Linked DNA regions of Homo sapiens: region 1 is linked to region 2. Evidence: fine-mapped QTL for protein levels in blood plasma. A gene starts in region 2. The other region holds a variant in brackets. All regions are shown on one strand. Distances are from middle to middle. Region 1 overlaps LOC124901969 (a long non-coding RNA gene). Region 2 holds the start of CA1 (carbonic anhydrase 1).

The links. A credible set is the group of variants that fine-mapping cannot tell apart. PIP is the chance, under the fine-mapping model, that this variant and not a neighbour inherited with it causes the effect. Protein levels are from antibody-based Olink assays in UK Biobank. Linkage for the fine-mapping came from a reference panel and not from the study's own genotypes, which makes the PIPs less certain.
Region 1: its variant is the best candidate, but not a certain one, in a credible set for the plasma level of the CA1 protein (UK Biobank, PIP 0.80).

Annotation. Positions count from the first base shown.
Region 1 is chr8:85,228,564-85,237,084 of GRCh38, forward strand. LOC124901969 (a long non-coding RNA gene) reads left to right here. Exons shown (of 4, transcript XR_007060985.1): 3 at 1,522-1,637. LOC105375936 (a long non-coding RNA gene) reads right to left here. Exons shown (of 3, transcript XR_929126.3): 2 at 404-547. Among named protein-coding and RNA genes, the nearest start is that of RBIS, 12 kb to the left of the region's middle. The variant CAG/C (reference allele first, on the strand shown) is at 5,095.
Region 2 is chr8:85,373,546-85,382,066 of GRCh38, forward strand. It overlaps CA1 (carbonic anhydrase 1), which reads right to left and starts at 4,568. Exons shown (of 8, transcript NM_001128831.4): 1 at 4,501-4,568. RefSeq lists a promoter at 4,596-5,387.

The sequences.
Region 1 (8,521 bases), 140 kb before region 2:
TGGGTGACAAGAGTGAAACTTCATCTAAAAAAAAAAAAAAAAAAAGCAAAGAAACCACGATCTGGGAAGTTGATGCTTCCATGTCTTTGCAGTGACCATAGCTAGGAAATACATGCATGTGTGTACATACTATTTGTCTATCTACCTATCTATCAGTATTCACACGGCACATCAACTGTATTTATTTCTATATGTACACACCATGAGTTCATGCTGATATCTCTAATTTCATTTGAATACCAAAGGTTTTAGTTTTCTACCATTCCATTGTTGTCATTTTTTCCTGGCTCCCTTATTTGAAATATATGTACTCATTTGGTTCATCTTCCTGTATGTAACCAGTCTTCTTTCACTGTTGCCACCTACTTCCCCTACCTCCATGACATGCAGGTGTCCTCCTTACCCCCATGGACTCTCATCCACCTGGGCTGCGGCCATCTTCATGTGCTGCCACCTGAATAGGTGGTTTCCCCACCCTGTTCACTCTCTTGCTTTCTGTGGGCTGATGCCGTCTCTCTCCTCCTTATAAGACCTAATGTCTTTTAGACTTAAGAAGGAAGGAAGGAAAAAGGAATAGAGAAAGGGAGGGAGGCAGAGAAGCAGATAGCAGAGTTTGAGATTTTATTCTATAGGCAACGAAGGACTTGTCCTCCTCTCCACACCCCACCCGCCAAAACACACATGAGATTGCTTATTGTAGGGAATAATTTTGTTAGCTGCATGAAAGTAGCTTAGAAGAAGGAATGGTTGCAGGCAGGGAAGTAGTGGTTCAGGAAATAAGTGATGAAGCCGAACGAGGAGATAGATATCCTTAGATGACTGTGCACCCACTATGGCTCCTCTGAGCAGCCAATGCATGACAAACAGTCAATAAAAATTATATGCAGTCTGCATTTCCGTGTAGTTTCTTCATGGGTCAAATAAATATTAGAGCTACTTTCCAATGAAATTTTTATTTCTTGGCCAGGCACAGTGGCTCATGCCTGTAATCCCAGCACTTTTGGAGGCCAAGGCAGGAGGATCACTTGAGCCCAGGAGTTTGAGACCAGACTGGGCAACATATCAACACCTTATTTCTACCAAAAATACAAAATTAGTTAGACACGGTAGTGTGCACCTGTAGTCTCAGCTCCTCAGGAAGCTGAGGTGGGAGGAAGCTGAGCTTGGGAGGTTGAGGCAGCAGCAAGCCATGATTGTGTCACTGCACTCCAACCTGGGTGACAGAGCAAGACCCTGCCTCAAAATAATGAAAGAAAAAAGAGGAAGGGAGGGAGGGAGGAAAGGAAGGAAGGAAGGTAGGAAGAATGGAAGGAAGGAAGGAAGGAAAGGAAAAGAAATCTACATTTCTTATGAGGAACCGATCAGATGAACATTTTCATGATTGATTGTGGAAATGGGGAATCTTTTTTTAACCCCCTAATGACAGGAGCATTTATTTCTAGACTATAAATGAAAATTTATGACACAGCCTATATAAGAAAATGCAGCAGAATAAACAGGATCCACCACCTTTCTCTCTAGGTCAAATTCCTGGAAATATCTGGAGGGTAAGAACCAGTGAATGAAAAGAGATGGTTAATGCTTTGCAGTGAAGGAAAAGTGACTCGCATCAGTAGATTACTATGAAGCTGCAAGAGGTGAGTCACAGGCTTTAGCTTTTCATGGTATGGTTTCTGTATTCAAATACCATGTTACTTTTATGCATGCTTTTCTCTCGTGCTCTTTTCAGGGCCCAGAAAAAAAAGTCACCTTGGATTTCCATTCATGAATACATACTTCTGTGACATAGGAGGTGTGAAAGAAGCATTTGCTGAATGAAATAAAACTTCCTGAAATGTAAAAATAGGCAAGGGTTTGTAGCCATACACTAAAAATTATTGTAAAGCACTGTCACTGTTAGCATGGCCAAGATATACCTAGAAGAACACTTTTCGTCTTCTTGTAGCACTGCTTCTTGGATGTGATAGGTGCTCCACAAATATACTATTAATTTAATTAAGCAAATTTGATTTAGAATAATCTCCTGGCCAAATGCCTAGGGATCTTGAACCTGAACTAATTATAGTCACAAAGAAGGGCTTGCATTTGAAATCTTCGAGGGTTAAGAATGGTCAAATACATGTCACAAAGACAATAAAAATATTCCAAGGGCATGCGTCGTACTTTTTCACTCTTTATGATACTTGGTTAAAATGCAAGTAATGGTTAAAATAGAGGAACTGTGAAATATTTAGCAGGTGCATATTTAAAACTCAGAAAGTTGGCAAAGGCAAAGAAGGCAGTGTGCTATTAAATTTAAAAAAATGAAAGGATGCAGTGCTTTGTAATTATCAAGTTTAATTGATAATGTAAACTCTCAACTATCTAAGTCTCAACTATGATTTTGTGTTTCAGTTGAAAGTGTTATTTTCAGAGTTTACACAGACCAAAGCAGACAGTCAAAAACTGAGAGAATGCTTGAAAGAGGTGAAGGAGTGGGTCTTGCAGATATTTAGGGGGAAGGTGCTCCAGGCAGAAAGGCCAAGAGCAGAAGACAGCGTGGCATGATTAATGAACAGAAAGCAGCACGGCTGAAGGGGGTCACATAGGGTTCTGCAGGTCATTGCAAGTACTTTGCTTTTGTTAGTTTATTCTGTCTTTTGTTTTGTTTTGTTTTTGTTTTTGTTTTTGTTTTTGAGATGGAGTCTTGCTCTGTCGCCCAGGCTGGAGTGCAGTGGTGCAATCTAGGCTCACTGCAAGCTCTGCCTCCTGGGTTCACGCCATTCTCCTGCCTCAGCCTCCCGAGTAGCTGGGACTACAGACACCTGCCACCACGCCCAGCTAATTTTTTTGTATTTTAGTAGAGACACGTTTCACCATGTTAGCCAGGATGGTCTCGATCTCCTGATCTCGTGATCCACACTCCTTGGCCTCCCAAAGTGCTGCGATTACAGGCATGAGCTGCACCTGGCCCATTCTTTCTTTCTTTAATTATTATTGTTATTAATTTTTGAGGCAGTGTTGCACTCTGTTGCCCAGGCTGGAGTGCAGTGGTGCGATCTCGACTCACTGCAACCTCCGCCTCCAGGTTCAAGCGATTCTCCTGCCTCAGCCTCCTGTGTAGCTGGGACTACAGGCATGCACCACCATGTCCACTAACTTGTATTTTTAGTAGAGATGGAATTTCTTCATGTTGGCCAGGTTGGTCTCGAACTCCAGACCTCAGGTGATCCGCCTGCCTTGGCCTCCCAAAGTGCTGAGATTACAGGTGTGAGCCACTGCCCCCAGCTTTTTTGATATATTTCTTTACAATCTTTTTTTCTAGGCATATATACTATATTGCTTATTAAAATTTCTGTGTAGATACTATTTTATAATCTATATATATATACACTTTAATAAGTAGTTTGGAAATATGGCATTTAATGTCTTTCAAAAATTATATCATTTTGATATACATAAGTTGTTTTAACCCTTTTCTTATCATTATCACTTCTGTTGTTTCTAGAGCTTTTTTCTGTTATAAATACACTGTAATTAACATCCGTTTGAATAATCTTTGACAGAATCTCTTAATATTTTCTCAGGCAGCGTGTCTATCAATAAGATCTAAAGTTATGAATACGCTTAAAATTCTTGATTTAAATTACCAATTTTTTTCCAGAAGATCATATATTCTACATTTCTACCAATAGTGTATGGACATGGCTGTTTCGCCATATTCTTATTACACAAATTGTTTATACATTTTTGGTGGGTTTTTTTGTTTGTTTTTTTGTTTTGTTTTTTTTGAGACAGAGTCTTGTTCTGTCATCCAGTCTGGAGTGCAGTGGTGCAATCTCAGCTTACTGCAACCTCCGCCTCCTGGGTTCAAACTATTCTCCTGCCTCAGCCTCCCGAGTAACTGGGACTACAGGCATGTACCAGCACGCCCAGCTAATTTTTGTATTTTTAGTAGAGATGGGGTTTCACCTTGTTGGCCAGGCTGGTCTCGAATGCCTGACCTTGGGTAATCCACTTGCCTGGGCATCCCAAAGTGCTGAGATTACAGATGTGAGCCACCACGCCTGGCCACTCTTTTTTTTTTTTGAGACAGGATCTTGCTCGCTTTGTTGCCCAGGCTGGAGTGCACTGGTGAGATCACTGCTTACTGAAGCCTCCATCTCCTGGGCTCAAGCGATCCTTGCACCTCATTGAGTAGCTGGGGCCACAGGATTGTGCCATCACACCCAACTAATTTTTGTATTTTTTTTTTTTTTTTGGAGACAGGGTTTCACCATGTTGCCTAGGCTGTTCTCAAATGCCCAGGCTCAAGTGATTCACCCACCTCAGCCTCCCAAAGTGCTGGGATTACAGGCATGAGCCACCGTGCCCAGCCTGATACGTTTTTAGAAGCAGAAAAAATTTGATTAGGAAGAAAGGGCATACAGATTGTTTTAAAATTATACATCTTTTGAATTTTGTTTTAGGCTTATAGTATAGTGGAGTATTTTTTTGTGTCTGTGAAATTAACTGATTGCTTAGGAGTTAAAACTGACAAAACTTAGAGGTGAAGAGAAAAAGAGAAAATCAGAAATTAATGTGACTATGAAGTTTCTGGTTTGTGCATCTGGTGGATGGTGGTACCATTGGATGAGATAGAAATGTGACAGGGAAGTTGGGACAGGGAAAAACTGTATAATTCCATGTGAACAATTTAAGTTGAAGTCATTGGATCTAATTCAGTAGATCTAGAGCTGTGCCGCCAGCATAATAGCCACTAGCCTCATATGGCTATTGAGCTCTTGTAATGTGGCTACCCTGAATTGAGATGTGCTGTCAGAATAAAATGTACACCAGATTTGGAACTCTTTGTAAGAACAAAGAAGGTAAAAGATAAATGATAGTATCAGTTAAGATCCAATCAGGAGACAAATCACACAGTAATTTGAACAGGGAAAGTTTACTGTAAAGAATTATTAAGTATAATGGGGCAACTATAAAGATGTAAAAGATAACTCTAAACAATATCCCGAGGCTAAGGAAGTTTCTAATGAGGGACAAACTTGGATGCCAGCCTCCGTTCCAAAGGGATTCAGATCACTGGAGAAGATACGGTTGCAACCCAGTGGATGA[CAG/C]AGAAGTTTGCTGGGTTGTCCAGGTCTGAGCTGGTCCACAGTTACTAGACAAGCGAGAAACAGGGTACAGGTGGGCTAAGACTGGTGTGCAAGACTACAGGTATGCAGAGGGACTCAAAGCATTGGGAACAACTCTGGCTGACAGATGCATAGCCTAGAGTGGACAGTGTCCATGTCAGGAGGCCATGGGAAACACTCTTTGGGGTGCAGGCAGACTAGGGCTGGTGGGCAGGTATGCAGAGGGAGTTGGGGCATCTGCTTGCCAATAGGGTGGCATGAGGCCTGGAGTATGTGGGGTTTGTTTTGGGAGGGGCAGTGAGGTGGTCACTGGGTTAGGGCTAGGGTTGTCAGCTTACTGAGAGACTGCATACTCTTGAGTGTGCTGCTGGGCCGGAGTGCCTGGATGTCTCTATACACGGCCACATGTGGCTGCTGAAAGCAGCCCAGCAGGAACAAGAATAAAACAAAAAACACAGCATTCAGGAACCAGGAAGAGAAGTTCCTTTCTCCAGCAATGACCTTCTACTGAAGAAAGCTTAACATTATGCTTGCTGCAAAAAAGAAATGCTTAAAGCTTCATTATCACAGAGCTGGTAATGCAGGGTAAAATTAGACGTGAAAGACAATAAATTGATAACTGAAACACTCATTAATTTTTATTTATTTTATTTTTTTTGAGACAGAGTCTCACTCTGTCACCCAGGCTGGAGTGCAGTGGCATGATCTCAGCTCACTGCAACCTTCATCTCCCGGGTTCAAGCGATTCTCCTGCCTCAGCCTCCCGCGTAGCTGGGATTACAGGCACCCACCACCATGCCCAGCTAACTTTTTGTATTTTTAATAGAGACGGGGTTTCGCCATGTTGCCCAGGCTGGTTTCGAACTCCTGAGCTCAGGCAATCCGCCTGCCTCGGCCTCCCAAAGTGCTGGGATTTCAAGCATGAGTGCATTAATTTTTTTTTTTTTATTGACTAATGTTGAAATGATATTTTTGATGTATTAGGTTAAATAATATATATCATTAAGAATAATTTCACTTTCCTTTTTAGTTTTTAAAGTGTACCTAGTCAAAAATTTAAGTAACATATATGCTTAGCACTTGGACAGTTCTGGAATGGATGTCTAAGCTAGGTAGATTACTTCCATAAGAACTGATGGAAGGGCCTAGGAGGAGAGTGTAGAGAGAGGAGAGATTATAGGCCCCAAACCCCCAAATTTAAAGGTTGGTGTGATGATTAATTGTATGTGTCAATTTGGGCCATGAGGTGCTCGGATATTTGGTAGAACAGTATTCTGGATGTTTACATGAGGGTGTTTTTGGAGGACATTAACATTTCAACCAGTAGATGGACTAAGGCGGACTGCCTCCCTAAGGAGCTGGGCCTTATCTAATCAGTGAAAGCCTGAATAGAAAAAAAAAAAAAGCTGACCCTCTTCCAAGTAAGGGAAACTTCCTTCTGCCTGATTGTCTTTGGGATAGGGCATCGGCTTTTTCCTACTCTAGGATTCAAACTGAAACAATGGCTTTACCTGGGGTCTTGAGCCTGCTGGGCTCTGGACTGAAACTACACCATCAGCTCTCCTGGGTCTCCAGCCTCCAGCTTGCCTACTCACTCTGAATATCTTGGGACTTGTCAGGCTTCATAATGAAGTGAGCCATTTTTAATAATAAATCTCATTTTCTCCCTCAATACGTATACATGGTTTTGGAGAACCCTAACTAATACATAATACAGTTGAGTATAGAAAGAAGAACCCAAGGAATTCCAGAGAGCATGGGTGGGTAGCAAATGGAAAATGTAAATTCAGGAAGAAAGTTTCCTGCTAATGAGAAGAAATTCCAGAACATGTTAGTATGCTGATGGCAATAATAAAGAAGAGTGAATGGAGTTGGCAATGGAGGCTGTAAGGGATAAAATATTATATGTTTGGCAAGAGTGCAAGGTTTTGCTAGGCACATAGGGCTAGTGCAGCAAGCTTTCAGTAGTGAAATGGTGGCAACCAGGTCAGAATTTCTTGGAATGAGGGTAAATCACACCTTCCTCGGTGGTGAGATGGGGATATGGGTACTGCTTTTCATAGAACAAACTGTCCGGCCAGGGGGATGGTGGCTCACACCTGTAACCACAGCACGTTTAGAGGCCAAGGCAGGTGGATCACCTGAGGTCAGGAGTTCAAAGCCAACGTGGTGAAACTCCGTCTCTACTAAAAATACAAAAATTAGCCAGGTGTGGTGGTCCATGCCTGTAGTCCCAGCTACTCAGGAGGCTGAAGCAGGAGAATCACTTGAACCCGGGAGGCGGGGGTTGTGGTGAGCTGAGATTGTGCCACTATACTCCAGATTGGGCAACAGAGTGAGACTCTGTCTCAAAAAAAAAAAAAAAAAAAAAAGGAACAAATCTTCCTTTTCTAGAGGACAGAAAGGAATAGATAAACCTTACAAGAGCTGATGACAGAATGCCGTCATGCCCCTAATATCGCTCTGTGGTTATATTTCAAAGAGTTGACAGCAATAGAATGACATTGACTTATTCATTCTAGGCCAAGGAACTACTAAATTCTTTAACAGCCGAATTACTTTGGCATGAATTATCTGGACTTTTCAACACTGATCTGATGTTTATACAAGTGTATTTCCTTTCAAATAGTCTTGATGCTTCCTTTTTCTCTTTCACACTTTACCTACTTTTGTAATATGCACAAATAAGATATGAAACACTACAAAATAGGGTGTAGATAAATTTCGATTAGAAAACTGTATAAAATTAAACAAAAGAACAAAAATGTAGAAATTGGGTTTTAGCAATGTGTTCTTATCTGACAATATAGGACAAAGAAATGTTTGGCTCTAGTTTCCGAAAGCTATCATTGGAGAGGTGACTGGGGAAGAGATTTATTGAAGTTATCCTTTCAATTTTGGTCTGAGAGTCCTCATCTTGGTGTGAAACCTTGGTCACCTGAGAAAGTCCTTTAACCCTTTTGAGTCTCAAATTCCTCTTTGGGAGATTGCATTATGTAAGACTAACCTTAGGATAACCTTAGGAATAAGAAAATAAAGAAATCGAAACCCCATATAGTATCAGCTCCATAAAGTCAACAATCTCCACAAGCTATCAAGTGATAAGACATTCTTGTGGGTAGTACATCCTGGTTGTACAAATCACAGGACTCAATGAATAAAGGAAGCTGGGCACAAATTGGAGAGCATCTTGGACTTGGGACTCTGCAGACTGGTGCTATGTCCCTGACTGTGTGGCTTGCCTCTCTAGGGGACTGGGGAACCTTGCTCATCTAAGTTTCGTGCTTGGTAAAAATCAGATGATAATAGCTACTTTGGTTCACATTTAGAGTTTTTAAAAATAATACCTGGGGGCTGGGTGCGGTGGCTCATGCCTGTAATCCCAGCACTTTGGGAGGCAGACGCAG
Region 2 (8,521 bases):
ATAGTTGTTCTATTTTATTATTAGTTATTGTTGTTAATCTCTTCCTATTCCTAATTTATAATTTAAACTTTATCATAGATGTGTTTGTATAAGGAAAAAAACATAGTGTTTATAGGGTTCGGTACTAGCCATGGTTTCAGGTATTGTCTTGTAACGTATCCTCACAGATAAGGGGGACTACTGTATATACAAGGGAATATTATTCAGCCTTAAAAAGAAATGATACATGCTACAATATGGAGGAAGATTGAAGACACTATGCTAAGTGAAATAAGCCATATACAAAGGGACAAATACTGTGTGATTCCACTTATATGGGATAACTAGAATAGTCAAATTTATAGAGCTAGAAAATAGAGTAATTGCTGCCAGAGCTCGGGGGAGGAAGGAGTGGGGAGTTATTGTTTAATGAATATGGAGTTTCAGTTTGGAAAGATGAAAAAGTTCTGGAGATGATGCGCGATGGGGGTTGCACAGCAACGTCAATGTACTTAATGCCACAGACCTGTATACCTTAAAATGTTTAAAGTAGTAAATTTAATTTTACCACAAAAAGAATACAAAATTAATAATAAAATTAGTGACAAAAGTGAATATCTATTTAGAACAAGAAAATGATTTATAATAAATCAAATATTTTACAAAGTTAAATATCAAAAATATCACAAAATCTAAAAAACAATATTTCATATTCAGCCACTGCCAGACACAATCCTCTAAGAGCTTTTATCTATATTTTAATTTCATAATTCTGGATTATCTCTTCATATAGCAAAAATTTTATATTATTTTCTGTAGAGAGAATAGAAAGATATTTCAGTCTTATTTCAAGCATGGTTGATTAAAATTTTTGTTTGTTCTTATTAATACTGGGATTCATAAAACTTCACACACATTTGAAGTACTGCTATAGGTTTGTGTCTTAATACACAGGATTCTTTAATTTTGTACTATTTTCATCAAAAAAATTTTGTAACATATGATGTGGTTTTAATCGTACGTAAGACATTATCAGATACATTCCTGAGAGAACCTGTCTTAACTAGGTTTTCTGGTCAAATTCTAAAACCAAATTCTCTGCCTGCAGCTTTACACACTGGATGATTGAAATTATTTTCCCTCGATTAGCTCTGTCTCTGTGCATTTCACCATCTGTTTCTCTTCAATAACCTACAAATTTCTGAACCTGGGAGCCATTAGGAAGCACACTTTCACTTTTCAATATGACTTCTGGCCCTGCATATTTGTTTTGGCATAGTGGATGCTACCCTGAATGGCTAGCAATAAATTATCAATATACAGAAATGACTGATACCCACATAAATATGACCCACTAAAGCCAAACTAAAATTATTCTCAACTCAACTTTCCCCATTTGGGTCTCAAAAATGCCCACAGCCCCTCCAATACCACCTGATACAGGAAATATGATGCCGTACAGTCAGAGTAAAATGATAATGGGGTTGACTGATTGTGGTTAAATATCTTTTGCAAATTTTATATAAAACATATGATTGTGTGAACACATTTCTTGTGCCCTTCTGGGATCTTGGAAGTAAATCAAGCAATGAATGGTCTTACAGCTTAAGCATCATTATTTTTACAATATTGCCACCTCTGCCTAAGTCTGTCTCACTCCAACATTTTTGCTTCTCTCCACTGTGCTATTCCACCTTAGATAATTGTAAAACATTAGGACAAGGGCAATGAGAGAAACCTAATTAGACAGGAAGGACACACTAAAGAAAGACACATGAAACAGCCTGGAAAGAAGGCTTCGGAGGGAAGAACTCACCTATCGCATGCTGGCCTGTCCTGGCATTGCACTGTTTTATTTTATGTATTTTGTTACCACTTTCAGAAAATTAACAGCACAGCTCTGCCCAACTAGCACATCTAATGCCATGTGCCACCCACCCGCCCTACACTGACCAGTGGTGCCATAAAATACCTGTTTTTTTCCTTTTCTTTTGAAAAAAAAAAAAGATTAGAACAAATAGAAAGATTAGAACAAATGTTGGCATGATAGAAACAAGGAATAAAATAGGCAGAAACATCCCAAGGGAAGATCTACATGCTCTAAATGAGTTTGTGTCTCTTGGAGAGGAATAAAATCCAGAGCACGGAGAAAGTTCAGATAAGATGGATGAACCTCAAAATAACTCGAGGTGCAGTGAAGACTCAGGCAGAACAACTGTATCCTGGCACATGCTATCCCAAATTTCAAAAATAGAATGGTGGATGTAGGTGAGCTATAGATCATGAGCTTGATGCAAATGTAGGTAATATTCTGAGATACAGTATTCAGTAGATAGTGTTAATCACGTAGGGAATGGTCAATAAAATGACAAAAGGATTCTTGATATTGAACTGGATATAAAACATGTAAAAAGCAAGTTGACTCCAATCAGGCAATAAAGAGATTGAATTCAGTCGAGTAGTGAATAATATCCTATAGAGGGAATTTCAACTATCAAATTACACAGTTATAAGTTATAAAAGAAGCTGGGCATGGTGGCTCATGCCTTTAATCCCAGTACTTTGGAAGGTCCAAGCTGGTGGATCGCTTGAGGTTAGGAGTTCAGGACCAGCCTGGCCAACATGGCGAAACCCCATCTCTACTAAAAATACAAAAATTGGCCGGGTGTGGTAGCGCATACTTGTAATCCCAGCTACTCGGGAGGCTGAGACACGAGAATTGCTTGAACCGGGAGGCAGAGGTTGCAGTGAGCAGAGATCATGCCACTACACTCCAGCCTGGGTGACAGAGTGAGATTCTGTCTCAAAAAAACAAAAAAGTTATAAAAGAGGTAACTTTAAAAATTGGGTAAGGGGGCCGGGCACGGTGCCTCACACCTATAATCCCAGCACTTTGGGAGGCCGAGGTAGGCGGATCATCAGAGGTCAAGAGATTGAGACAATCCTGGCCAACATGGTGAAACCCTGTCTCTACTAAAAATACAAAAATTAGACGGGCGTGGTGGCACATGCCTGTAGTCCCAGGTACTCCGGAGACTGAGGCAAGAGAATTGCTTGAACCCAGGAGGCAGAGGTTACAGTGAGCTGAGATCACACCACTGCACTCCAGCCTGGTGACAGAGAAATTGTCTCAAAAATAAATAAATAAATAAATAAATAAATAAATAAATAAATAAATAAATAAAACTAGGTAAGGGTACACATGATATACTAGACTGCATGAAACAGTGTGAATTTGGAAAGCTCTGTTACCTCAAGGAGATGCCCAGCAGATTGACTTTCGGGTCGTGTAGAGGCACCCTGGGCATGTGTGGTACCTAATTAGGTCCCTGACCCTCTCTCAAATTCTTTAACTGACACTTCAACCCTGGCCTTGATTCTCTGATACAGTATCCTCAGCCCAATCAGATCATACATCTATCTATTCTCTTTATTTGCATAAGTGGATTTACAATACTGGGAGAAGAGAGAAATAACTATAAGAATGTTGAAGTTAGTCAAATCCACAATATTAACACATTTGTATTAACTTTAGAAATTTAATTATTTAATCCTTGAGATAACCTATGAAAGATTGTTTGTTAAGTTACTTGAAGCATTTAATATAACCTGATATATTAGAAAATCAGATATATGAACCATATAATTTCAATTTTAAAGTACAAGAGCATTTTCTTCAGTCTATACACAGTGTTTGAATGTTTAAGAGAACATAACTTACTACTGCATAAATTTGGTTTATTACTTTTACTGGAATTGCTTTAATTATTAGAGCCCCCTCCCTCCTTTTATAAACTTGCAAGATGTATAAAAGATACTAATGTGTCAGGCATTTGAAATGCTTGAGAGATTCAGGTAGACTAAATTTGTAATTGATATAATATATAATATTTAAAGGAACTTAATTAACCAAGTCTATCAATTGCATTATTTGTTTAGGGGAATTAACGTCAAATTGAACATTAGTCATGGAATAATTTTAAATGGTAATTTATATTGGCTGGGCACAGTGGCTCACGCCTCTAGTCCCAGCACTTTGGGAGGCTGAGGAGGGCAGATCACCTGAGGTCAGTAGTTCGAGACCAGCCTTGCAAACATGGTGAAATCCCCTCTACTAAAAATACAGTAATTAGCCAGGTGTGGTGGCATGTGCCTGTAATCCCAGCTACTCGGGAGGCTGAGGCAGGAGAATCACTTGAACCTGGGAGGCAGAGGTTGCAGTTAGCAGAGATGGTGCCACTGCACTCCAGCCTAGGCTGCCAAGTGAGACTCTGTCTCAAAAAAAAAAAAGGTAATTTATATTATCCTTTTCAGATTTACAGATTTACAGAGATCTGCTTGATAAATATAAAAGGTTTAGAAAAACTATAAAGGTTTTTTAAGCTTTGCAGCTTTCATTCATTGAATAGTAATTAAGATGTAGGTAGGACTGTATTTTACAAGATTTAAAGATTCTTTTGGCAGTCGGATAAAACACTTCAATGCTCAGCTAGATGAAAGGCAGAAGTCTTTGTTACTTACAGCTCTGAATGAGAGAAGGCTGCCACAGAGGACCACGCAGGGGGTTGCACCTGAGGACTGGGTACCACAGGCTGGAGGGGGAATGGGCAGCTTATGTACAGCAAAAAGGGTGGGGTTAGCTAGGTTGAATAATTTTGAATAATTTGCATAATTTTGGCGGGCTTTGGGGCATGGGCGCTGTCCTTAATTGTCTGATGTCTGGCCCTGTGGTGATTAGAGTGGGTACATAGTGGCCCCAGAGTGTGAGAACCTGATAAGGGAAGTGGTTGGGGTGTGGATTTAATCAGCTGCTCAAGAGAGGAAACTGACCAGCCTCTAGCCAAGGCCTCCATACTAGGTCAAGACAGCACAATAATCAATAAAAATACCATATATGAAATATATTTAGTCACTGATTCCTTTATATCTTGATGTCGATTTTGAACTCAATTATTTGGGGTGTTTGAGTGGCCTGAATAGTAGAGGAGACTTCTACAGAATAGGGCCTAAGTTGCACTAAACAGCATAGAAAACATTTTATTATGACAATAACAAGGAAGAAACCAAGTAGAAATGTGACAAGTCCCTGAAGGCTGACTCGTAACCAGGCTCCCATTTGTTTGGCGTTGGCCAGGAGAATACATCAGTCATGGCAAGGGCCTTTAGTCATATTTTGACTGGATTTCAGAGTGTGTTAAATATGTAAGGCATGTTTTTTTAGGGTGATGGTTTTCTGATCCAGGCTTTCTGTTAGAATGACCTCTTGATTGGTGGTGTTAACCCACCTACAACAAGAAGCTCTAATAATGTTACAAACACCTCTTTGACTAGTTAATATATAATCAAGGACAAATTTACTGTCAAAAAACATTTTTGCCAAAGCTCCCTGGTTTAGCAGGACTAATATTTGCTGTAACTTAGAAATATGATATACTAGAGTTTTGGACATTTGTAGGGTAGCATCAATTATTTTTGACTGTTGGGCTAAAGCAATGGTCCTTGTGGCCATCGCAGCAAGTCCCAGAGCAGTGGTGAGTCCCAGTATTATAGGTACAAATGTGGCACATCAATGACATTTGGCTGGGTAGGGAAAGAATAATTAACATTTATATAAATAGGAATGCCAAGAGAGGCCAGAATGCATCTCGTGGCTTCCAGTTTCAGAGTAATGGAAGGGCAAAGGAGAGGGGATAAACACCCTTGTTGGTTGGGACACAATATAGTTTTGTGGCATTACCATTAGACTGGAAAATTGTACCTTGATTTAGGTAAAGGGAAATTACTAAAGAATGGGACTGGAGGAAGACAGTGGCTTTTGTTGGGCATATGGTGAGAATATGCAGTTGTTCATTGGGTAGCCCATCTGTGGTATGTATTGAGGAAATACGAGTGCAGTTGCCACTTGCCATGAGGGGGCACCCCAATACAGAAGAAAAGGCCGTTTGGAAGTGGTTTTCATTTCTCAGTATTTTTCATCTCTGGGGCAATTATCAGTTGGGTAAATGTGTGATGTGGGATATGTGGAAGCAGGGTGATGAGTTATGGATAGTCAGTGCAGAAGAGCCTACTTCAGTCAAATGTGTTTGTATTTTGGATGTCTGTATAAATATCAGAGAAGCTGGGGCAGTGGGTTTGAATTTTACTTACGTAGTCTTTTAGAGGGCAAGAGGAGAAGATGCTGTTAGGACGGAAAAGATAGGGGTGGGAGTAGGGATACTGACAATGAGAAAGGGAAGGCGAGGAGGATGGAAGGGAATAAATGGTTTGACAGTCGGAGACCAGCAGATGCTCCTTTTACTCCTAGGAGAGCACACAGGGTGGAATACTTCAGTCAGGTTACCCTTTAGGCAGGAGAAGTGGGTGGGATTAGCAGGAACCTGAATCTTAGAAGCATTAGGGAGGTATTGGACTTGGTCTCATAAGGGCTAAGCCAGGTATAGAGTGGAATTACAATCACAGAGAGCAGAACTTCGAGTTTTATAGGTGTCTGTAAAGTCTGGAAAGTTACTCCAGTGTTGTGGGTCTTGCTTTTTTAAAACAGAAGTCAGCAGTGTAACCAGCTACTGGAAAACCAAGAGCCTCTGGTCTCCTATGAATGGCAAGACATTCCATGTGCTAGTGTAGTTGGCACTGCCCATAGTTGGTTGGGAGGCAGGGGGCATGTCATCTTTAATGGCATGGTCTTGAGCTAGGGCAGTGTCGGACTAGGGTATCCTTCCCACATGGATACCCACTAGGGTTGATGTGGGCTGTATTTTTGTGACTCTGTGGTGTTATAATGGGGCTGAGTCATTTGTAGAATTTGAATACAATGTTGGGTCCTGGGAGCTTGATTCACAAATGTCTTTTAAGTCAAAGGCTTTGTGGGTGCACAGCTAGCAAAGATGCTGGCATCCAGAATACTCCTATAATTGGACCAAAGTGCCAGAATCTGAATGGTACAATCAAAGTCTCAATTAAAGGCAGCTAAATGTCCCTACAAAGGACAGGATCTTGTTCCTTTTTATGGTGGCGTAGTATTCCATGGTGTATATGTACCACATTTTCTTTATCCAGTCTATCATTGATGGGCATTTGGGTTGATTCCACATCTTTGTTATTGTGAATAGTGCTGCAATTAACATACATAAGCATGTATCTTTATAATAGAATGATTTATATTCTTTTGGGTGTATATACCCAGTAATGAGATTGCTGTGTCAAATGCTGTTTCTGGTTCTAGGTCTTTAAGGAATTGCTACAATGTCTTCCACAATGGTGGAACTAATTTACATTCTCACCAACAGTGGAAAAGCACTCCTATTTCTCCATAGCCTCGCCAGCATCTGTTGTTTCTTGACTTTTTAATAATCACCATTCTGACAGGTGTGAGATCATATCTCATTGTGGTTTTGATGTGCATTCCTGTAATGATCAGTGAGGTTGAGCTTTTTTTATGTTTCTTGACCACATATTTGTCTTCTTTTGAGAAGTGTTTGTTAATGGGCTTTGCCCACTTTTTAATGGGGTTGTTCATTTTTTTTCTTATAAATTTGTTTAAGTTCCTTGAAGATTCTGGATATTAGACCTTTGTCAGATAGATAGATTGCAAAAATTTTCTCCCACTCTGTAGGTCACCTGTTTGCTCTAATGATAGCTCCTTTTGCAGTGCAGAAGCTCTTTAGTTTAATTAGATCCCATTTGTCAATTTTTGCTTTTGACATTTTTGTCATGAAATCTTTGCCTATGCCTATGTTATGAATGGTATTGCCTGGATTTTCTTCTAGGGTTTTTTGTTTTTTTTTTTACTTTTGGGTTTTCATTTAAGTCTTTAATTCATCTTGAGTTAATTTTGTGTAAGATGTGAGGAAGGGGTTAAGTTTCAATTTTCTGCATATGGCTAGCCAGTTCTCCCAGCACCACTTACTAAATAAGGAATCCTTTCCCCATTACTTGTTTTTGCCAGATTTGTCAAAGATCAGATGGTTGTAGATGTGCAGTCTTATTTCTGAGATCTCTATTCTATTCCATTGGTCTATGTGTCTGTTTTTGTACCAGTACCATGCTGCTTTGGTTACTGTAAACTTGTAGTATAGTTTGAAGTAGGGTAACGTGATGCCTCCATCTTTGTTGTTTTTGCTTAGGATTGTCTTGGCTATATGGGCTCTTTTTTGGTTCCACATTACTTTTAAAGTAGTTTTTTTCTAGTTCTGTGAAGAAAGTCAACGGTAGCTTGATGGGAATAGCATTAAATCTATAAATCACTTTGGACATTTTGGCCATTTTCATGATATTGATTCTTCCTATCCATGAGCATGGCATGTTTTTCCATTTGTTTGTGTCCTCTCAGATTTCATTGAGCAGTGGTTTTTAGTTCTCTTTGAAGAGATCCTTCACTTTCCTTGTTAGCTGTATTCCTAGATATTTTATTCTCTTTGCAGCAGTTGTGAATGAGAGTTCATTCATGATTTGACTCTCTGCTTGTCTACTGTTAGTGTATAGGAATGCTTGTGATTTTTGCACATTGATTTTGTATCCTGGAGCTCAAAGCCATTATCCTCAG